Linked DNA regions of Homo sapiens: region 2 is linked to region 1. The links come from fine-mapping of genetic effects on gene expression. A gene starts in region 1. The other region holds a variant in brackets. All regions are shown on one strand. Distances are between the middles of the regions.

The links. PIP is the estimated chance that this variant, and not a neighbour inherited with it, causes the effect. A credible set is the group of variants that fine-mapping cannot tell apart.
Region 2: its variant is the best candidate, but not a certain one, in a credible set for the expression of LINC02319 in whole blood (INTERVAL, PIP 0.60).

What each region holds. Positions count from the first base shown.
Region 1 is chr14:52,118,951-52,131,455 of GRCh38, forward strand. It overlaps LINC02319 (long intergenic non-protein coding RNA 2319), which reads right to left and starts at 6,547. Exons shown (of 3, transcript NR_187197.1): 1 at 6,244-6,547; 2 at 4,723-4,826.
Region 2 is chr14:52,275,777-52,288,281 of GRCh38, forward strand. It overlaps PTGDR (prostaglandin D2 receptor), which reads left to right. Exons shown (of 2, transcript NM_000953.3): 2 at 1-948. It also overlaps the pseudogene LOC100131689. Among named protein-coding and RNA genes, the nearest start is that of PTGDR, 14 kb to the left of the region's middle. The variant G/A (reference allele first, on the strand shown) is at 6,510.

The DNA of each region.
Region 1 (12,505 bases):
GCAGAGGAGAGAGCAGGAGAGGAAGAGAAAGGGGAGGAGAGAGAAAAAGGGGCAAGTCAGGATGAAGAAGAATCATGGCTAAGACAGAAAAGGAGGTAAGAGTACCAAGATAGTCAAATAATCTCAAAAGCCAAAGAAGGGTGCCTTTCTAAAAAGAAATTTTAATCATTAGTGAGACTGGCGGTTGGAAAAGCCCACTGAATATGCATGATGTCATGTACTGTACATTCACAACACACACAAGGCCACATTCAATCTGTTGACCTTGAGGGCAGAGCACAAGGCTCAGTTGTTCCCGCCCTGCCCCAACCCCCAGCGTTTGCCTCTGAAGAGAAGGAGAAGTCTGTACTGGGAGAGTTGGAATTCTTGAATCAGGCTAGTTGTTAGCTATGTTGTGAAATGGGCTCATTTTCAGAAACTAAAAAATTCATTTCTGCTGATAGTCACTGTAGTAAGTAGATGAGGGGTCACTCTAATAAGTAATAGGCTTGAGCGAAAAATGGGTCCCTAATTTGCTGTCAGGGATGGAGTGACAAAACCAGGATCCACCAATGGAGAGGAAACAGCCCAGCTTGGAAGGAATGATTTGTACCCCAACCAACACTGTGATGCAAACACAATTTGGGTGCCTCCTTTAGTGACATCAAGAAAAAGAAACCTAATATGTAGCCATATTAAACAAACTGAAATCCACAAATCATGTTAATCATGGGGCAATTTCATAATGGCATGGATTAAGTGGTGATGACATTACAAATATAAACAGAAGGAACATCTTTAAAAAGTCCAAAAAAATTGGAATTTGTCTGTGTACTACCAGAGTCACCTGGAAGAGAGGGTTCCTGGGTTCTAGATAATTGGTAGTGACAATATAAAGATAAATCATCCTATAGAAAAGATGGTTACTTCATGAGATAATTTTTCTCTTTTCATTTGTTTTGAATATTCAGTTTCCTTTTTTGCCATACCCTATGATTACTAAGATTTATTTTTTCCATTGTTTTTAAATTATTATTATTTAGAAATAATTTAGATTTTTAATTATTCACAAGGAATTTACTATTTTCTCTATTTTTGAAAACCTTTATGATTTATTTTGAAAAACATAGACATTTTCAAACTTAGAAAGAATAGTACAAGGAACTCACATGCACCTGTTACCCCATTTCAACAATTAATCAGCAGTCTGCCACTTAAAAAAACAGCTATTCTTTCTTTTTTACCTCTCCTCTTCCTATTTTTTTTTCCTGGAGTATTTTAAAGCAAATCCTGGACATCATATCAACTCACCAGTAAATACATCAATATGTATTCATCTTTTACCAATACGAACTTTTTAAAAACTGGCAATCGTGCCATTATGACAGTAATACAACTTATAATAACTTCTTTATATAATTGAATACTAAGTCTATGTGCAAATTTCTCTATCTCAAAGATGTATTTTATAGTAGGTTTGTTTAAATCAGGATCCACACAAGGTCTAGACATCAGTTATTCCATCTCTTAAGTATCTTTTATTCTCTAAAAATTTATCCCTCTTTTTATATGCAATTATTTTTTGGAGAAACTGGATTGTTTGGTTTGTAGAATATCTCATTCAGGATTTGGTTTATTGCATCTTCATAGTCTTGTTTAAATTGTTCTATTTCTTTTGTTTTCTTTAAACTGGTAGTTAAACCTACTGACTTGATAAGATTTTTAGGCAAAAATACTTCTAAGTGGTGGTATGTTTTTTCTACTGCACAACATCATTATATGGTCCAGTTGTACTTTTAATGATACCAAGATTGGTGATTGGGTTTTGATGAGAGAAGCCTAATATTTCCATTATGAAGTTCTTTGTCAACTTTTAACCTGTATTAGCAAACGGGTTAAAAGCGACTCATAATTGTTGCCTGGATTCATTTTATAGGGATTGCAAAATGATGATTTTCTAATTCTATCATTTCTTCTGCATTTATTCATTGGAATTATCCTATAAAGAGCTTCCCCTCATCAACAATGTGGTTACCCTTAAATATAGTACATACAAGAAAGGCAGAATAAATCCTTTATATTTCCCTTTTCAATACATTTTTGAGTAATTTTAGCAGCCTCCAAAGATGACCAAGGAGGAATTTTAAGTCATTAAATACTCATGAATTTTTAGATATCTGATGTATTTTAATTCTTTCTCACACACAAATTATCCCATTTTTGGCCAGTGGGAGCCCCTTAATGGCAGTTCTTGTGTCTTTCTGATATGACCCTAAAACTGCCTTTACAAAGTTATGACAGTAAGAGAAAGCTGGCATAGCTGACTCCATCTTGCTTCTAACCTCCAAGCTGTCATTGCTGGGCATAGGTCAAGCTAACTTTGGGAGGATTTTAGTTTACAGTTTAACCTTAAAGCAAGGATGATAATAGCCACTCCCAAAATTAAACCACCTTTGTAAAAATAACGGAAGACCACAAGATTAGGATTATGAGAAGGGCCTGAATTCTGGTTAAGATACAGGCATAGTTAAACAACAACCAGCCATTGTTCCAGAGGTCACAATATGTGTAACTTCTCCAATTATTCCTGTAGATAACATCACTATCGTAGAACCTAAGACTGGCCTTTTGAGATGTTTTTAGACTTTTACATTTATGGCAACCAACTGACTCTACCCAGACCATGACTCGTGACTGAAATGGTCCTGTGGCCCCCATCCAGAGGCTGACTCAGCACATAAGGACCATTTTTCCAGGCTCCTATGACTGCATCCCCAACTAATCAACATTTCCCATTCCCTAGCCTCCTGCCCACCAAACTCTCCTTGAAAAACTCTAACCTCCAAGCCTTCAGGAGACTGACTTGAATAATTCCAGTTCTTCTACGTGGCCGGCCTCGTATTAATTAAACTCCTTCTTTACTGCAATACTGTGGTCTCAGTGAATGGGTTTTGTCTCTGCAGCAGGCAGGAAGAACCCATTGGATAACTACAGCCCCATTTGTTTTGAAAGGCTTTCTTGTTTCTTCTTTGACACAAAACAATGTCCCAGACTCACCTTTTAATTTTTGCCCTAGACTTGGAATCAAGCATTTTTCTAAAGAGCTCTAGTTCCTGTTAGTTGGGAATAGTGAGAGGTGACAGCGTGCTAGCAGTCCTCACAGGCCTCGCTCCTTCTCGGCGCCTCCTCTGCCTGGGCTTCCACTTTGGCGGCACTTGAGGAGCCCTTCAGCCCACCGCTGCACTATGGGAGCCCCTTTCTGGGCTAGCCAAGGCCGGAGCCAGCTCCCTCACCTTGTAGGGAGGTGTGGAGGGAGAGGCACGGAGCGGGAACCGGGGCTGTGCGCGGCGCTTGCGGGCCAGCTGGAGTTCCAGGTGGGCGTGGGCTTGGCGGGCCCCGCACTCCGAGCAGCTGGCCGGTCCTGCCGGCCCCGAGCAATGAGGGGCTTAGCACCCAGGCCAGCAGCTGCAGAGGGTGTACTGGGTCCCCCAGCAGTGCCAGCCCACCGGCGCTGCGCTCGATTTCTCACTGGGCCTTAGCTGTCTTCCCGCAGGACAGGGCTCCGGGACCTGCAGCCCGCCATGCCTGAGCCTCCCACCCCCTCCATGGGCTCCTGTGCGGCCGAGCCTCCCTGACAAGCGCCACCCCCTGCTCCAGGGCGCCCAGTCCCATCGACCACCCAAGGGCTGAGGAGTGCAGGCGCAGGGCACCGGGACTGGCAGGCAGCTCCACCTGCAGCCCTGGTGCGGGATCCACTGGGTGAAGCCAGCTGGGCTCCTGAGTCTGGTGGGGACGTGGAGAACCTTTATGTCTGGCTCAGGGATTGTAAATGCACCAATAGGCACTCTGTATCTAGCTCAAGGTTTGTAAACACACCAATCAGCACCCTGTGTCTAGCTCAGGGTTTGTGAATGCACCAATGGACACTCTGTATCTAGCTACTCTGGTGGGGCCTTGGAGAACCTTTGTGTCCACACTCTATGTAGCTAATCGAGAGGGGACGTGGAGAACCTTTGTGTCTAGCTCAGGGATTGTAAACGCACCAATCAGCGCCCTGTCAAAACAGACCACTCGGCTCTACCAATCAGCAGGATGTGGGTGGGGCCAGATAAGAGAATAAAAGCAGGCTGCCGGAGGCAGCAGTGGCAACCCGCTCAGGTCCTTCTCCACAATGTGGAAGCTTTGTTCTTTCGCTCTTTGCAATAAATCTTGCTACCGCTCACTCTTTGGGTCCACGCTGCTTTTACAAGCTGTAACACTCACCACAAAGGTCTGCAGCTTCATTCCTGAAGCCAGCGAGACCATGAGCCCACCGGGAGGAGCGAACAACTCCAGACGCGCTGTCTTAAGAGCTGTAACAGTCACCTCGAAGGTCTGCAGCTTCACTCCTGAGCCAGCGAGACCACGAACCCACCAGAAGTAAGAAACTCTGAACACATCCGAACATCAGAAGGAACAAACTCCAGAGGCGCCACCTTAAGAGCTGTAACACTCACCGCGAGCGTCTGCGGCTTCATTCTTGAAGTCAGTGAGACCAAGAACCCACCAATTCTGGACACAATAGGATTTAAAAACCACAATCTGGATGCTTATTGTGTTAATTACTGCTGAGTTGTCATTCCTTTTAGACTTTTTCAAGGGACAGAGCAATGAAATATGCATTTTAAAATTTATTTTAAAAGATAAAATGAGTTTATAGTGATATGTCCAATTCAAACGTTAGATTATAAAATTTTTACTTACCTTCTTTGATTTTATTTGCTTATTTGAGTAATCTTACTGTTACTAGTTATTCTGATGTTCTAGAATCATTTATATTTGAAGCAACAGCCAAGGTTTATCAATGCCTGAAAAGTGAAACAGAAATGATAAAGAAAATAAAGGAAAACATCAATGCAGAAAGGAACTATAGTAAATATCTTTAGGGATGTAAAAGAAGATATTATCTCCATGGAATTATTGCAGAGAACTCTTAACCTAGGTTCAGTAGTCTTATTGCCTATTATTTTTAAGCTATATATGTGTTGTAAGCTAAAGTTGACAAGTAATTATGTTAATATAGAGACTGAGCTTTTCAGCATAGGAACAACAAGATACAAATATAAAATCAAATAAGCAAAAACCCTGTAATCATAAAAAATTGGGAAATGTTATTGAAAGACCACCATCTGGACACAAGGGCTCCTTGGGAAAACACCACAAGAATGCAATAAGCCAAAGCTCGAAATTCTACAGAACCTATTATCTGATTTCTTCTACGAATGAATAGCATGAAAAGAAGAGAGGAACTAACGTGTATTTTGTATAGATCTTACTTGGTTTCCAACTCAAGCCAACTTCAAAAAAGACATTTTAGACAACAAGAGAAAGTGGATCACTGGGCATTACGTGAGGTGAAAAAATTACTAGTTTTGTTACATATAATAGTAGTACTGTTATTTGTTAAAACTCCTTATCTGCTAGCAATATATTTTGAAGACTTTACAGATGACATGATACTTCGAATGTGTTTTTACATATCTAGAAAAAAACTGGAAGGGACATAAGTGAAACAAACTTGGTCAGATATCGAAGTTAGGTGGTGTGGGTTCATCATACTATCCTCTAATTTTTGTATGTTTGAAAATATCCTTAATTTTTAAAGGTTAAAAAAAGACTTTATTTAGAAACACTAAAGAAGACAAAAATAAATGGAGAGATATAAGGATGCTTTAAAAAGGTAATTAATTAATTACATTATTTAAAAAGCACAAGAAGACAAGAAAGAATCCAGCTCAAATCCTATGTCCCAGGGTCCAGCAACTAGCAGGGTGTGTCTAAAATTCCCCCAAAGCCGCAGCTGAGGACCTGAACTGGAGGGCAGATGTCCCTCCACCCTCCTTCCTAGGGCAGCAATTAGCACTCCAGTCTTCTGGTTGGAGGCTCTTTGTAGCCTCATAGTTCACAGAGCCCTTTTGGACATGGAGTGAATAGTTGGTTACATTCTCCACATTATTATGCAGATGACATTGCTCATGGTGGATACTAGAGCTGGGGCAGCTGATGAGGAAATCACCAGGGGTGGCTCAGAAAAAAAAAAAATGACCTCCCTAAGGGACACTACAGGAAACCAGCCCCGAAGTGATTTCTTTTGAAATTCGGGGCAGCAGCAAGCTCATATTTCTTTTGGTTAGTTCCTTCACCATGGTTGCCAGTCTCAGTAAAGCTGAGTGTTCCTATCTCCGCCTCTGTCTCCCTCATCAGCTATTGTTTTACCTCACCCACCCAAGGTATGGGAGGCCTCCATTCCATTTAGAGAGCTCCTGGTGCTTCCTGGTGGCTGGTGATGATTCATTTTTATTCCCTTGAATCTTCCCCACGGCCAGATCATTGTTGTCCATATCCTTCCCTCCAGGAAACAACAAAAGGCAATATTTGGTCTTTTGGCTGGAGTCTATGCCGGACCAACACATCCCACAAATGGCTTGAGCTGAGGGTTCCTCCAGCCCCCTGAGATTTCCCAAAGCATTTCGAGATAAACTCTAATAGTAGGATACATTTGCTTTCCAGTTGAAGTGATGGGTTATATGATTCATCTGTTTCCTAAGATTTCCAGTTATAGTCATGAAATCTGGCCTCTGCCCCTGATGTAAAATCCTTGTGTTTACAAGAAGTAACCTAAGTAACCTACCACATGTTCAGAGTTGGAAACCTACTTCCTGTCCCCCGAGTTTGTAAACCCAGCAAGATATATTTTCTCTTTTCAGCCATGCTTGAAAAGTTGGTATAACTGAAATAAGTTTTAAATAAGGCAAATTGGAATAAACTCCAACTCAATGATTTCATCTTCCCAATCCTGCCCCAAATCATGGCCATATCAGTGGGATTTCCAATTGCAAACAGCACCAAACAACACCAAATTCATGTTAGCAAATTTTAAGGATGAGAAGTGACCTCAGCCATCCAGAATTGGATTTGTAGCAGATGACAAATAAGATGCTTAGAATCACAGACCATCAGAGATGGCCGACTTGAGCCAGCATCGACCCTCTCCTTTCACAGGTGAGAAAACTAAAGTCCAAAGACAGTCTTATTTTAAAGCCTAAATTGCAGGGGTAGCGAGTGAAACCAGTTTCAAAATGAGGTTTACCACAGAGGAGCCCAAACCCACTCTCTCACTCATGTCACATTCTGAAGTGTCCTTCTTACTGGTTTCCAACTCTTCACCTCTCTCTTCTTATCTCTTCCCCCTGCCCTCCACACTGCTCCCTGCTGCAGCCACTTTCTCTGCAGCACAGCCCTGATCATATCTCCCCTGGCTCAAAACTATTCCATAGTTCTCGGCCTTGGCTGTTCCCAATGACATTCCAGTTGAACTTCATACTTCACTCGCGTGCCCTGCCCAGTCCATATGGAAAAGTAGCTGCTCCCAAGAGATCTTTGTGCCTATCTCTTTTCCCATGTGATTTTCTCTGCCCAGAAGATTCTTTCTCTTTAACAGGCAAGATCCACCTACCCTTTAGGGGCTCGGTTCAGATACCATTTCCTCCACAAATGCTTCATTCACTCTCCTAAGTGAAAGCCAGTTCTCACCTTTTTGTCTCTTTGCACTGTAGATCTCTATTTTGGCAGGTAACACATTCTATTTCATGTAATACTGTAGTTAATTACGAACATTCTGCATCTTCCCACTTGACACTAAATTCCTGTAAGTGAGAAACTAGATCTTACTTACAACCCCAGCACAGTTATTTGTTTAGCGTGAACATCATTTTTTAAAATTAAATTGGGTTGAAATCCACTATCTTTGGAAACCCAACAGCATTTAGGCATATAATTCTAAAGAGCTGAAATTTAATGTTTTATGTACTTCTATCCTTGATAATCTCAGGTACGCTGAAGGACATTTTTATCTCCTATAATGTGTCATGGATAAAAATAGGGAGCATTCTTTTTTCATTGCTATTAGGTCATGCTCATGTTCAACTTATTTTCTAGAGATGGGGTCTCACTATGTTGCTCAGGTTAGTCTCAAACTCGGCTCAAGCAATCCTCCTGCCTCAGTCTCCCAAAGTGCTGGGATTACAGGTGTGAGCCACTGTGCTCAGCCAACATGTATTTATTTAATACACCTAGAAGGCAGGAAACACTGTGTAGGTTGCTGCCGGGGTAGAGAGGTGAATAAAATCTGGGACCCAGACCATAAAATAGTTGTGATGGGGGGCCAGGTGCGATGGCTCACGCCTGTAATCCCAGCACTTTGGGAGGCCAAGGCGGACAGGTCACGAGGTCAGGAGATCAAGACCAGCCTGGCCAACATGGTGAAACCCCATCTCTACTAAAAGTAAAAAAAATTAGCCGGGTGTAGTGATGTGCGCCTATAGTCCCAGCTACTTGGGAGGCTGAGGGGGGAGAATTGCTTGAACTCAGGAGACGGAGGTTGCAGTGAGCCGAGATCAGGCCACTGCACTATAGCCCAGGCAACAAAGTGAGACTCCATCTCAAACAAACAAACAAACAAACAAAAATAGTTGTAATGGGTTTACTTTCACAGCTGTGAACTCAAGGGCCATCCCAGGCATCAACTCTTAGACATTTCACAAATAGCAACTGCTAATCACCCCTGTCTGCTATTAAAGAAAGTTGTGAAAGACTAACAGCCTTAGGAACTACCCTTGGTAAGGAATCAGAAGATCATGGGTCTACTTCAGACGGACTCTACCAAATTTCTCTCAGCATGGCCTTGGACAAGTTGCTTATTTCTATTCATCTTCCTCATCAGCAAAACAGACTCTTCATGAAAGGGCTCTTCATGGGTTCCTTCAAGGACATAGGTGTGTTAAAGCAAAATAAATATAGCCTGAGAAGGACTCCATTCTTCTATATTTGAGTCCTTGGGGATGAACTGTAACCTAGCTTAATAAACAAGATTGAAAACCTAACTTAGGAGTATGCATCTGTAACAATAGCTGAGTCTTGGCCAATCCCAGCAGCCATACTTCAACTACTCACACACTGATGAGTGTTCAGACTGTGTTCAAAAAAGGCAAATGCCGGCCGGGCGCGGTGGCTCACGCCTGTAGTCCCAGCACTTTGGGAGGCCGAGGCGGGCGGATCACGAGGTCAGGAGATCGAGACCATCCCGGCTAAAACGGTGAAACCCCGTCTCTACTAAAAATACAAAAAATTAGCCGGGCGTAGTGGCGGGCGCCTGTAGTCCCAGCTACTTGGGAGGCTGAAGCAGGAGAATGGCGTGAACCCGGGAGGCGGAGCTTGCAGTGAGCCGAGATCCCGCCACTGCACTCCAGCCTGGGCGACAGAGCGAGACTCCGTCTCAAAAAAAAAAAAAAAAAAAAAAAAGGCAAATGCCAACCTGCAATCAATCCAGCTGTTCTGTGCGTCACTTCCGGTTTCTGTAGGTCATTTCCCTTTTTTTGTCTATAAATCTTCTTCCACCACGTGGTTGTGCTGGAGTCTCTGTGAATCTGCTGTGACTCTGGGTGCTGCCCCATTCGCAAATTGTTCATTGCTCAATTAAACTTCTTTAAATTTAATTCAGATGAACTTTTTCTTTTATCAGGTGTCACCTAACATACAAGTTTTTGGACTAATTCTGCAAACATATGGTATGAATTAAAGCAGTGGTTCTCAAAGTGTAGTTCCCAGACCGGTAGCATCTGTTGGGAACGTGATAGAAATGCACATTCCCAGGCCCCATCCTTAACGAACTGAATCAGAAACTCTGGGGCTTTTTGTCTGGGGGAACGTTGGGTTCTGGTGCTTCCTCTTTTCCAAGTGGAGGGTGGTGCTGATGCTGTGGGCAGCTGAGTTGGGGTAGGCTCTCCCCATCCTACCAGCTCATCCTCCAGACTAGGCTAGAGTCAGCTCGCCTAGCTCCTGAAATACTTCTGCTTGCCAAGGCACCAGGAGCCCATAACACCTACTCTGTGAGCTTTCCTCACAGAGGGAAGGCTCTGTCTGAGGTTTAGTGAACAATGATTGCGAAAATACTTTGAAAATTGAGAGGGGCCATGCAAATGTAAATATTGTTAAAGTTGCCAACTCTTTAGGAAAGAGATGTGTGAAACGGGAAAAGAGAATACAAGGAAAAGACACTGGTGACAGATTCTATAAACTACTCTTAACTCCTGAAGAATCGCCTTTTTCATTCTATACACAGCTTCCCTCCCTTCATTTTGTCCCGCTTGTCTACAAATGTAACAAATGTGCGAGGTTCGGTGGCTCACGCCTGTAATCCCAGCACTCTGGGAAGCGGAGGCAGGCGGGATCACCTGAGGCCAGGAATTCGAGACCAGCCTGGCCAACATGGTGGAACCCCATCTCTACTAAAAATACAAAAAAAAAAAAAAATTAATTAATTAGGCTTACTCCAGCTACTCAAGAGTCTGAGGCACGAGAATCCCTTCAACCTGGGAGGCAGAGGTTGGAGTGAGCTGAGACCGTGCCACTGCACTCCAGCCTGGGCGATCAGTTTGAGAGTCGGTCTCAAAACAAAAAAGAACCTGAATTGTTTGGCCGGGTGCAATTACTGATGCCTGTAATCCTAACACTTCAGGAGACCGAGCCAGGCGGAACGCTTAGGTCCAGGAGTTCGAGACCAACATGGGCAGCACGGTGAAACCCCATCTCTACAAAAATTGCAAAAATTTACCGGGTGTGGTGGTGTGGCGCCTGTTGTCCCAGCTACTCAGATGCTGAGGTGAGAGGATCGCTTGAGCTTGGGAGGTCGAGGATGCAGTGAATCCAGATCGTGCCACTGCACTCCAGCCTGTGTAACAGAGAGAGACTGTATCTAAAAATAAAAAATAAAAAAAAAATTAAAAAGAATCTGAATTGTAGTTCAGACCCATAACCTACCACACACAAGAATCTCATCCTCTTCACTCCTGCCTAAGAGAGACAGATTTGTTCTTTACCAAATGCAAAGTTATCTGGTCTCTTTAATTTCTTCTCTCCCTCTTCTGGCAAACTGCCTAGGCGAAGACACTTTCCAGATCAAGCGGTGTCATGGGGCAGCAAATGACCTTAAGTCATTAAAACAGAGTTTTAGTGACTCTGCTGCTGTTTACTACACAACCTTGGGCAAATCCCATCTTGACTTCAGAGTATTTGAGTGGAATGTATGCGTAGTATTTGTAAACTAAAAACATTTACAATATAAGTGATAGATCATATTGCTGTTAGCAAAGCACAGGTTGCCTAGTAAAAGTATCCTGGTCAAGATCTTTGGTTTTCAAAAGAAGAGCATTTGTAGACAAAGGAGGAAGTCATGTTTATTTGTAGTAATTAAATGACAGGGGAACAAATCAAGACACCTACTTTCCTGAATGTTTATTCAAAACATGGTAGAATTAGTGGTTAGTGGCTAGCAGAGCCTCATATCTGCTCCTGTTCTCCGTTGGCTGTAATACAGTGTTTCTTTTTTTTTCTTTTTTTTTTTTTTTTTTTTGGAGACAGAGTCTCACTCTGTCACCCAGGCTGGAGTGCAGTGGCTCGATCTCGGATCACTGCAACCTCTGCCGCCCGGGTTCAAGCAATTCTCCTGCCTCAGCCTCCCAAGTAGCTGGGATTACAGACGCCTGCCACCACGCCCAGCTAATTTTTGTATTTTTTAGTAGAGACGGGGTTTCACCATGTTGGCCAGGCTGATCTTGAACTCCTGACCTTGTAATCCACCCACCTCAGCCTCCCAAAGTGCGGGGATTACAGGTGTGAGTCACCGCGCCAGGCCCTACATGTTTCGATTGACATAAGAAAATCCAGCCTTGCGCAGATAAGTAGTTGGAAAAAGAAGGGGTATTTCAACAGCTTTTCAGATATTTTTGTGGCCAATTAAAAAAAAAACAAATTACCAAAATGTTAGTTTTTGAAAGATTAGTAGTAATATGGAATCTGAAACCATATCAATGAACTTTTTGTACTCTGTTATATTAAAATCCATTTATTGTCTTACACTTTGAATAGATCTTTTAATTTACTATGTGTAGGGTAAAATAGTCATTCAGTGAGTTATGCAAATCATCACCATTTTGACACATTTCATTATACAATACAAAAAATATCAAATTTATTAATATCACCATCAGATTGATCAGAAAAGTCTTCAGATATGAACTTGTGAAGCTCACTGTGGTAGATACAAGTTTTCTAGATTTCCAAGTTTTGCTTGAAAGCTCACATTTTGTCATTAACACACATACTGTAGTTACTTGTTTTCCTTAAAGGGATAAGCTCACTTTATTTTTGAGAAAACATCAGCCAAATACTGAAGTCTGAAAAACCATAATTTCTCTGTCAGTCACTTTTTTAGTTTTTTTTTTTTAAAGTAAAATTGATGTTCCCCAAAAAGGGAGGAATCTTGTATATGTTGCAGAAGTGTTTTTCCTCAGAATAACTATCCTACTTCAGTATGCAGCAAAACTGTTCTGTGTGTACTCCCATTCTGTCACATTGAATAGTAAAAGGAAATAAATCCAAGCAAGGGTCAAGATTTGATAAAATCAATAACTTTTACCACTTGATCAAG
Region 2 (12,505 bases), 160 kb after region 1:
CCTATCAATGGATTCTTTAGTGGAAGGATTTATGCTTCTTTGAAAACCAGTGTGTGACTCACTGTAGAGCCATGTTTACTGTTTGACTGTGTGGCACAGGGGGGCATTTGGCACAGCAAAAAGCCCACCCAGGACTTAGCCTCAGTTGACGATAGTAACAATGGCCTTAACATCTACCTTAACAGCTACCTATTACAGCCGTATTCTGCTGTCCGTGGAGACGGTAAGATCTTAGGTTCCAAGATTTTACTTCAAATTACACCTTCAAAACTGGAGCAGCATATAGCCGAAAAGGAGCACAACTGAGCACTTTAATAGTAATTTAAAAGTTTTCAAGGGTCAGCAATATGATGACTGAAAGGGAAAAGTGGAGGAAACGCAGCTGCAACTGAAGCGGAGACTCTAAACCCAGCTTGCAGGTAAGAGCTTTCACCTTTGGTAAAAGAACAGCTGGGGAGGTTCAAGGGGTTTCAGCATCTCTGGAGTTCCTTTGTATCTGACAATCTCAGGACTCCAAGGTGCAAAGCCTGCTGCATTTGCGTGATCTCAAGACCTCCAGCCAGAAGTCCCTTCCAAATATAAGAGTACTCATGTTTATTTATTTCCAACTGAGCAGCAACCTCCTTTGTTTCACTTATGTTTTTTCCAGTATCTGAGATAATATAAAGCTGGGTAATTTTTTATGTAATTTTTTGGTATAGCAAAACTGTGAAAAAGCCAAATTAGGCATACAAGGAGTATGATTTAACAGTATGACATGATGAAAAAAATACAGTTGTTTTTGAAATTTAACTTTTGTTTGTACCTTCAATGTGTAAGTACATGCATGTTTTATTGTCAGAGGAAGAACATGTTTTTTGTATTCTTTTTTTGGAGAGGTGTGTTAGGATAATTGTCCAGTTAATTTGAAAAGGCCCCAGATGAATCAATAAATATAATTTTATAGTATTTTGCAGAGGAAATTACTTTTCTTTAAATGAAAGAAAAGGGCTTGGCTTTCTTTTTAGTAGACAGTTGCCAGCAATATTTCATTGTCTGGCAGTTTCCTAGTGTGGATTTTTATATACTGTCCGATTAACACTTACATTACTTTAAACAAGCTTTCATTACTTTACTTACATTTCATTACTTTACATTACTTTAAACAAGCTTAGGTAAGTCCTTAGACTCACCTAAGGACCTAGTGCTCCTTTTTGTTTCATACAAAATGTAGATATACCATCTGGATGAAGTCTGTGTTGAGTTAAAACCAACTCTTCGGTAATCTGTATAGATTTATTCATTAATTCATTAAATAATTTACAGAGACCTTGTGCCAAGCAGTTGATTAGGGGCTGAGGAAAGGAATAAAAATAAGACTCAATCATGGTTCATGAGTTGCTCGTTGTCCACTGGGGTAGAGAGGAATGTCAACAGTTAGGATACAGCATAGAAATTCTCCATAGTATTGCGAGTACGCATTTACTATTAGAAGAGGAGGCCCAAACTAGGGACCACGTGTAGGGTTGTCAGGAGAACTTCACAGGAAGAAGATGCATTGAAAGTCAAGTATTGAAAACGAGTAGGAATTTTGACTCTGAAAACTGAAAAGAACACAGAGAAAGTTTACATAAGAGAAAATACATATGGTTAATAAATGTAGAAAAATATTCAGCCTAATCAAGGAAATGCAAAAATAAAACCAAATTGTATATCAACAACAAGCAACAACAACAACAAAAAACCTATGACTCTCAATAACAGAGGTTATTCAGAGAAGAACATTCATGTTCCCCTGGCGAGTTCGTAAATGTGTATACCCTTTCTTGATAGCAACCCAACAGTGTATCAAGAACCTAAAGCGTTCTTTGCTGTTGTTCCAGTAATTCCACTCTAGCATTCTCTTGCAGAGAATAATCAGTAGTCCTGGACAAGCAGCAGTAGCAACACCTGAAACTTACTACAAATGCAAATTCTCCAGCTCCACGTCAGACCTGTTGAATCAGAATCTCTTGGGTGGGGCCAGCAATCTGGGCTTTAACATGCCCTCCAGGTGATTCTCATGCATGCTAATATTTGAGAACCACTGCTCTACACAAAACAAAAAAAGAAAAGAAAAGAAAAATACCAAAAAAAGACAAGTAAATATGTGATAGACTATGTTTCTCTGACCTCTGATTCTCAGATCCTTTCAGTTGCAGATAATCCCTCACACCTGAACTTCCACAGTGTTTTTATCTGTAATGTTCTCAGCAAAGTTACAGCTTTGTAAACTAGTTCAACCATTGTGGAAGTCAGTGTGGCAATTCCTCAGGGATCTAGAACTAGAAATACCATTTCACCCAGCCATCCCATTACCGGGTATATACCCAAAGGATTATAAATCATGCTGCTATAAAAACACATGCACACGTATGTTTATAGTGGCACTATTCACAAGAGCAAATACTTGGAACCAACCTAAATGTCCAACAATGATAGACTGGATTAAGAAAATGTGGCACATATACACCATGGAATACTATGCAGCCATAAAGAATGATGAGTTCATGTCCTTTGTAGGGACATGGATGAAACTGGAAACCATCATTCTCAGCAAACTATCGCAAAGACAAAAATCCAAACACCACATGTTCTCACTCATAGGTGGGAATTGAACAATGAGAACACATGGACACAGGAAGGGGAACATCACACACCGGGGACTGTTGTGGGGTGGGGGGAGCTGGGAGAGATAGCATTAGGAGATATACCTAATGTAAATGACGAGTTAATGGGTGCAGCACACCAACATGGCACAGGTATACATATGTAACAAACCTGCACGTTGTGCACAGGTACCCTAAAACTTAAAGTATAATAATAATAAAGTTTTAAAAAAAAGAAAAAAAATAATATATCTTTCAATACTGGCAGCCATTACTGATTCCCAAGTTCATCACTGATAGCAGTGATGAGACCTGTCTTGCTCACTTGGAGGTAAAGATACTACCCTCGGCAATGATATTTCTTTGGACTGCTGCAGACATTTAATTGGGCACTAAGCCTGATGCTGTTGTGAAGGAAGATAAACTAAAGAGCCTTTGTTTATGAAAATATTGTCAAAGATTATATTTAAAGTGAGCTTTCATTAGGGATTGAATATTTTCTAACTCTCTATAGGATAGAAATTTCCATTGAAATACGTAAAGCTATTTTTAAACTTTCATAATTTGACTTTTTTGTATATTTTCAGGAAAATATTATACATTGAATCTTTCTTTCCAGGCATTAAAATCCTTGAGGACTAGATAGTCACCTATTTTTTTCTCATTTCTCCTAGTAATTCACATATATACTGTAGAAGAGCTATAAATATACTATAAATATATTGAATAAAACGCGTTCTCTCTCATGATAGTCCTAAAATGTACGTCTATTCAATAAGAGGCTGCTGTATGCTTGGTTAAAGATTCCTCTGTATCTGATGAAGAATGTTCTCATATCACCATATAAGGATTTTTCTCTTAGGCCAACCAAAGGTGAAAATAGTACACGTAGGAGAAAATATTTTTGCTCTATATTATTTCCCACTGTTATCGACATTATGTAAGTTAACATGTATGTTTCAATTTTTATCCAGGAAATAGCAACTCGTACATGATGAAATTAACAACATAAAAAGTTTGTTAATTAGGCAATGTTAACATTGTAAAAACAACTTTGTCTTATTAGAACAGTGTTGACTGGCCTGCTCTTTAATTATTTTCTTCAGTGAGGCTAGGATTGCTGGTCTGGGTGTTCCCAGACTCTAGGTGGAGGAAAGCTGAGCACATAGGATGGGTGGTACTATAATTAGGCTTCCTCTCTCTACCGTTTCACAATAGCCAAATTCAGTGGAATGAATCAGCAGATCTCGCCTGATAACAGTGAGGTGAACATTCTAGTCTTCCAGATATTTTTATACAAACTGCACGAACTCAGGAGTAAGTCCAATCATAACAAACCTGCATGTTGTGCACATGTACCCTAAAACTTAAAGTATAATAATAATAAAATTAAAAAAAAAATTGCAATGAATGTGTTTAGAACCGATCATGCTCTGGTTAAAAATACAGGGAGAAGATATAAGCTTTTTTTTTTTCCTACTAAAATGCCTCAACCGGGGAAGGCAATAAAAATACAGTCAAGTCAAAGCTCAAATGAAAGTATATTTTAGGCAAAGCATAGGGTCCTATGATGATCTTAAACTGAGTAAGCACTTGGAATCTAATTGGAAACACAGGACAAACTAGAAGGTAAAAATCATACAGTGTAGTGCAAATGTTACAAAGTACTAAAGTATGAGTTATAGATTTTAAAACAATAAAGCCCCAAATCAGCGATAATTGATGTTTAAGATTAGTCTAGCGGTGCGTTGTATAAACACCTGGGCAAACAAAGTTGGTAGCTTGCCAGCATCAATTTCTTATCACTACAAAATAGAATATGGAAACAATAACTGTCATGACACACAATTCATAATGAATTTAGAAAATACTTTTTATTCCCCCCAAATTAAAAAACACCCAGAGTTCCCAATTAGATGAAAAAGATAAAGTACAATGATTTACTGATTATGATTGTGTGAAAGTAAAATAAATCTTGGGACCCCAAACTCACTAAACCAAACAGAAACGTCAAGCTGGGAACTGGGTCACGCCAACCTGCATCTCATTTTGGTTCCTAAATAAGATGGCTAAAATACGAAAAGCTACATACCTCCTTCACATTTTGTCCACACGGAAATTCCTTGGGGGCCCCAAGACCTTTTTCCTAAAGTGTTTCTGTTAGAGTGCATCATGGCAATGTGAATGGATAGCTTTTCTCCACAGGTGTGGGGACATAGGAGAGAACTCAGTCATCCCTCTGTCCACCTGAGACAAATGCATATCTGATTGTTTCCTCTGCTCTATCGTCTGCATTATCTACATATGTAAAAATGCAGATTCACTGAGCCAGACAAAGGCATGAATGACTGTTTTCCCCTACCCTCTTCTCACATGAAAATTATGTATTTCTCAATATCCTTCCCTTTCCCCTTTAGATATTGAAACCCTCAAAATCATCTATGGGGAAAGGAATAGACCTATCTCCCAGGTGTGTATCCTTAACTTTGGCAAATAAACCTCAAAAAATGATTGAGATTTTCCTGGGTCATTTTCCTTGATTGACCACGGAGGGATCCTGAGTGAAGGTGGCCCTGGCCTGCAGCAGCTCTCCTATTGGTACCAGATTGGGCTCTTTATAGCCCAAACCAATAAGACAATTTGTTGAGGTCTGGGACCTCCTCCCTGCAGGAAGTTGGGGCTCTGAGGTTTAATTTGATGTTTAAAAAAAAAAAAAAAACACCTCTTTTTTTTTTTCTGGGAGTTTTTGCTTGCTTCCATCAGGGAAGGCAAGCTTGTCTGCTTCTTCATCAGTGGAGAACAGTCTTCAGCTTGAGTCTCATCACTAGGTAAGGAGGTGAGTTGGGAATCTGTCTTGCAAATTCTCTTTAATAACTAAAGGTACTGTTAACAACCAGCTGGTCTTAATTTCTCCTTACATTTAGAGCACTCAAATTGTATAATTTGTGTGATTGCTGTTCGTTTTGCTTAGATGTCTTATTTACTTGTTTCTGTCTTGTTAGGTGTTTTTTTGTATGCTTCAGTCCTTCTCTTATTGGATTTGGCCAACTCTAAACCCTCTAGCTTATAGTATGGAATTTTCCTCTCCAAAGAAATAAGAGCTCGCCCTTCTCAGCCTTTCTTAGGCAACTGAGAATTACATGAGGGTGTCTGGAAGAAACACTCCCTAAGATGTGCAACGGCTCTGAGTAGGATTTCCCCTCAGAAGAACGTACTTAGGGTGTAATCTCAGCTAGCAGGTGCAAATAAGGAGCTGATCTCCCATGCCTTGAGCCCCTGACACACTGTGCCAGGTAGCCACGATACCAGTTCAGCGAGTAACGGCCCTGAAAAGCTAGGTCCCCAAGCAGCACACTTTGGATCCAACAAACCCTCCGACTTGGTCAAATCTGAAGGAAAACTCTAAATTATGTGGAAGGAGCCCTTTAAGTTGGCTGAAACCCCCACAGCTGTGGAACACAAAGTTCCACCCTTAGAAACTCTGGCCAGGTATATGCAAAAACACTTATGGTGAATTGTCATGCAAATATTTAATCAAGTGGACCACTATAATCAAGGCAGATTCTAACCTACAGAGGCCTAGATGGGGATCTTCTGAGATGCCCAAATTAGTGTACCTGTGAACTAGGATGCAAAACGCAGGCACAAAACTAAACAACCAGAATGGGAGAGCTACTTTCAATGGTACCTAGAGAGTAGCAAATGGGGGGAAGATCACCTCATGTCCTTACAATAAGCCAACAAACAACTTAGAAATGCTAACCAAGGACTCTCTAAAGTTCTATCTCTCTTAAAGAAATCCCCAGAATCCCTTACTTCCCTGTGGCACCTCCCCACCTCCACTTACACCCCCACTTTACCCCTGACCTCTCTGAACTTCCC[G/A]GACCAGATCTGTTCCCTCCTTCTCCTGCATGTTCTAATTTAACATCTTCCTCTCCTTGTACACCACTCACTCAACAGAAGGCAGTAGGGAGTCTAACTTCCAAGACCCTACCTCCTGACAATTCCCTGACAGTGCCAGTGGCAGCCTCTCATCTGGAAGATGTGGAAAAGGGGGACCCTGCAGGGCCATCTCTCATGATCACCCTGTTTTGGGAACAACCGGTAACACATAGGGGAACCCCGGTGATTGTCTACCAACGCTGGTCAAAGGCTGAGTTGCAGGGCATAAAGAATTTCTGGGCCCCCATAAGATCCAATTGAGTTTGCCCAAGAATTTGAATTCATTATCAGAACCTATGACCCAGGCCATTCAGACCTCTAACAGCTGGCACACATGTTGGTCTCGGAAGCTAAAGCTAAGGAATAGCTGGACAAAGTACAGTGGTCAGACCCTGTAGCAGACTTAACCCTTGAAGGCCCAATAGAGCTACAATAACCAGCCCCCAGAAGTCGAGAACACAGACACAAAGATGTGTGGGAATGAGCAACTGCTCTGTTAAATACCATTTCTTCAATATTCCAAAGGGTTGTGGATTGGGATAAAATCCAGCAATGCCACCAGAACCGAAATGAATCAATTTTAGATTATTTTATACATTTTGACTGAGATAATATGCTCCAAATAATTAACTTACACTCTCTCGCCTGGTCCTTCTGACGAAACCCCTCATGACTATGTTCTGATGACTGACCAACTTCTCACTTCTGGGACAGACTTACAAGAGATGCCACTGGATAATGCTGAGATAGAATGGTATACAGATGGGTCTTATTTAAGAGGATGGGGATGGAAATTTTAGAGCAGGATATGCTGTGGTCTCTTTACTAGAGGTAGTTGAAGCTGGTCCTCTTCCTCAAGCCAAATCAGCTGAAGGGGCCAAATTGATTGCCCTGACTCAAGCTTGTCGATTAGCAAAAGACAAGGCTGCAAACATACCCTGACACCTGCTAAGCATTTGGAGTTGCTCAGGACTTCGGAATGTGAAAGGAGAGAGGATATTTAACCTCCTCAGGGCAACCCATAAAAAATGGACAACCAACTCTCAGAGCTGTTAGAAACTATTCTCAACCAAAACTTTTGACAGTTGTAAAAATCCCAGGTCACTCTACATTGGACACCACTAAAAGTGGAGATAACAAATTTGCTATTGCTACAGCTGAAAAAGCAGCATTCAAGCCACCAGACCCAATCCAAAAAAATGATCATAAAGCCTGAAACACTTAAAAACATGTTGAAGGAAACCTAGAGTATAGCCCCAACAAAAGAGAAATCCACTTGGAAACAGACAGGGGAATACCTGTCTCCTGAAACTAAAATATTGTATGGACTTAATAATAAACCATTATTCCAATGGGATGTCAGGTGCCCCTTAAGGAATGTGTTAATAATCTGACACGATGGAATCCAGATAAAAGTATATCCTAGTGTAAACAATGTTACTGGAAACGATCCTCCACAGTGGCACAAAAGGTTTATTCCCAGTGTGCTATTTGTCCTAAGGATAATCCACGGAAGCTCCTCCATGAGGCCCAGGGTCATTTTCCCCTTCCAGCTGGACCTTTTGAGGTATGGCAGCTTGATTTTATCCAGCCGCCATCCTCTCAAGGTTACATGTCTTAGTAATGGTCTGCATGTTTTCCCATTGGGTTGAAGCTTTTCCCTGCAGGCAAGCAACAGCGATGGCAGTTGGAAAACTTTATTAGAAAAAATTATTCCACTGTGGGGAGTCCACTGTGAACTTTACGTGATAGAAGAACTCATTTTCCTGGTCAAGTTATTCAAAATATTTGTGAAATTTGGCCCATATTTCAACATTTCCATTGTGCCTACCATCCCCAGTCCTCAGAGCTGGCGGAAAGGACCAATGGAATAATTAAAACACAATTGGCTAAGTTCATAAATGGACTTCACCTCTGTTGGCCTAAAGCACTCCCCTGGTGCTTCTTACCCTCTGGTCCACCTTGGGAAACATCAACTATCCCCTTATGAAATTATAACAGGAAGGCCCATGTGTATGGGAACCAAAATAACCAACCCAACTTTTCTCAAGAGAGATATATTGCAGTATTATAAGGGACTCATTTGTCATCTTTACAAAAGCCAAGATTTGGTAAAGAATTCCTTTCATAGTCCACTCCCTGAAGACAAGGTTCCTGGTTATGATCTGCAGCCTGAAGACTTTGTCTATTGGAAAAGACATTTAATAAAGGACTCCCTTCAACCCCAATGGAAGGAGCCATACCAAATACTATTAACAAATCCATGTGCTGCAAAAACTAGACAGTATAAACTCATGGATTTACACCTCTCATCTTAAAAAGGCACAACCTCCTGAGTAGGCTGTAACTCCTACCAAGGATCTTCACCTGCAGCTCATTAACATTGAACTTCAATCCAGGACTAGGAGCAGACCATAGCTGTTGTGGACTGCTTAAACCTAAGACACAGGACCAGGCCTGTATACAAAAGAACACCTATGAAACCCAAGACACAGGACCAGGCCTGTATACAAAAGAACACCTATGTGTATTGTATGATAGCTATTACAATTATTGTCCTAGAGATACTGGCAACTGCTATCTTGTGCAGAACAGGGCATTTGCCTTGTCTGATTTAATGTCCTTTTAGTAGTTAAAATGAATTTCACAACCTTGCTCCTATTTACCCTATGTCTCTAAAACCTCTTGCCACTGTCACCCATTGTTGCCCATAAGACAAACCTGTTTCTACAATGGGCTCAGGATTATGCAGACAGATTATAAAAGGATGCCTGTGTGATATGCAGACTCATGCCTCTTTCCAGTGGCTCCAGCCTGCCATGGTGGGTATTTCCCTTACAAGGTCAAGACTAGCTAGAATACCAAAATTTATTACATCACAGAAATGGTTTCGTATCCTTAGTGCTGGCATAACAAAAGACTAAATATATATAATTTCCCCATTAAAAACACTCAAGAGCAAGGACATGGGAAAAGATTTTCAAGGGAAAGGACCAGCTCACCAGCTCTCACTTTAGCATTCCCCCAACTAAAAGAGAAGGTGGCAACCATGCCCCAAACAACAGCCCATTTTCAAAATGGGATAATGCAAATTTGGAATGGGTTTATCTGGTTCATCCCTTCATTTGGCCAACTCAGCCAAAATGCTCCTTTATGCTTGGAACGAAGAAACGACCCCAAGGACCAATGGCCAAACACTACAAGAGATATGGGGTGGATACCTGGAGAAATTGTATTGTGACCTGGAGAAATTGGTGGCAGAAGCTATTGCTTCCAATAATAATAATAATAATAATTTGTGTCATGTCCTGTTTTTGCTTACAATGTTATTATGGTATGTCCAGATTAGTCATCAACTGAAAGGGCTAGAATAATGATTGCCCAAAGAGTTGCTCTAATTGAGGAGGCAGTAGCATAGCCTGACCCAGCTTCCAGGTTTGCTTTCCCTTTTGCTGTATATCTGGTCTAGATCCCTATATTTTTAATTTCCTCTTACCTTCTTTCCTCCCCCTATTTTAATCTTCATGGGGCACGACCTGCTAAGAATGAGCCTTCCTAGCAAGGTGGGACCTGAATTTCTGGGAATAAACCATCCTAGCAATGAAGGACCAGCTCAAAAAAAAAAAGAAAAAGAAAAAAGCAAGCTGAGACCAGAGACACATTTTCCTTCTAAAATGCTTTCTCCAAATGATTTTAAAGAAAAAATGGGGGAAATGTGAAAATAAATCTTGGGACCCCAAACTCACTAAGCCAAAAGGAAAAGTCAAGCTGGGAACTGGGTTATGCAAGCCTGCCTCTCATTTTGGTTCCTAAATAAGATGGCTACAAGATGAAAAGCTACATACCTCCCTCACAAGGAAATTCCTTGTGGTCCCCAAGATCTTCACCCTAAAGCATTTCTGTTAAAGTGCATCATGCAAATGTGAATTGATAGCTTTTCTTCACAGCTGCGGGGAACATAGGACAGAACTCAAAGTCATCCCTCTGCACACATTGTTTCCTCTGCCCTATTGTCTACATTAATCTTATGTAAAAATGCAGATTCACTGAGCCAGACCAAGGCAGGAATGGCTATTTTCTCCTACCCCTCTCACATGAACATTGGGTATTTCTCAATATCCTGCCCTTTCCTCTTTAAATATTGAAGCCCTCAAAATCATCTTCAGAGAAAGGCATAGACCTGTTTCCCGGTTGTGTGTCCTTAACTCTGGCAAATAAACCTCCAAAAATGAATGGGACTTGCCCTGGTCATTTTCCTTGATTGACAATTGGCACATCCAAAAGAAAAATGACAGCCCCCTGCTAAAAGAGCTAAAGATAAAAATGGAACAAAGATTTATACTTCAAATGTGAACATAAAGTAATATTAGGCTAAGCAGAACTTAAGGCAGTAAGTTTTATGGTTAAAAAGTCAATATGTGGTCGGCCCCATGTGTGCAAGTTGCTATGGTGGAAGTCAAAGGGGAAACAACAATTCACAGGAAAGAGTACAAAGGCATCACAAAAAAATAAAACTGATTTCATAAACACGGTGATTCTGGTTCTTCAAAGACATTTCCAAGAAAAGTTGCTAAGGAAGGTGAATCTAAAGCCACATCTAAGAACTTTGAGAAAAGTGTCACAAAACCAGGGGAAAGGGTGCGAAGCAGTTGAAGAATAAGCAACAATGGGACAAAGCACCAAGGAACAAATTCCAGCCAGCAAATAAATTCAACAAGAAGAGGAAACTCCAGCCAGATGGCAAAAGTGGTGAATCAGCAGCCAAGAAACCCAAATGGGATGACTTCAAAAAGAAAAAGAAAGAACTGAAGCAAAGCAGGCAACTCAGTGATAAAAGTAACTATGACACTGTTGTGTGGGCAAAGCAGATTTGGAAGACTTTAAGAAGAAAAGACTGACAAAGAAAAAAGAGTAAAGTTAATGAATGACTTGCAGAAGTTGATTCAAGGGAAAATTAAAACTATTGCATTTATTAGCTGGACATGTTGGCACATTCCTGTAATCCCAGCTACTCAGGAGGCTGAGGCATGAGACTCCTTGAGCCTGGGAGGCAGAGGTTGCAGTGAGCTGAGATGGTGCCACTGCATTCCAGCCTAGGGGACAGAGCAAGACTCTGTCTCAAACAAACAAACAATTGCATTTGCAAATGATTCAACTCATGTGATCCAGTGTTACATTCAGTGTGGTAATGAAGAACAGTCAAAACAGGCTTTTGAAGAATTGGGAGATAATTTGGTTGAATTAAGTAAAGCCAAATACTCCAGAAATATTTTAAAGAAATGTCTCACGTTGTGAACATGTACCCTAGAACTTAAAGTATAATAAAAAAAAAAAAAAAAGGAAAGTATCTTGCACAAGCTCACGTAGCTGGTAAGTTACATAGTTGGGATCTGAATTCAGTTGTGGCTTCATGCCTGAGCTTTTAACTACTACTACTAAACTGAGAAGGCACTTGCTTGAGTAAATTATGTCATCCTCTTAATGAAGCATTATGCAGCTGTTAAAGATGATAGATGTAAAGGTTATGAGGCAACATGAAAATATAACTCATTTATTCAATAAATGTTTGTTTCTAAATATATTCATTTGCTGAATGAATAAAATGTTAAGCCAAAAAAAAAAAAAAAAAAAGAAATGTCGCATGTATGGAAGTCAACCACAGATTGCAGAGATAATGAGAAGTTTAAAAGGCCCCGTGAGGAAGATGCTGTGGCAGGCAGAAACATCAGCCATCATGTAGGACACATATAATGACAAAGCCACTTTGGAGCAGAGGAACATGCTGACGAAAGAGTTCTATGGGAACACATTTCACCTTTACAAGTCAGTCGATCACCAACTCCAGACAAAGTATTAGGGGTACAGCCAGAAAAATTAAGAGCTTATTATGGATGAAATGAAACAGATTCTAACTCCAGTGGCCCAAAAGGAAGCTG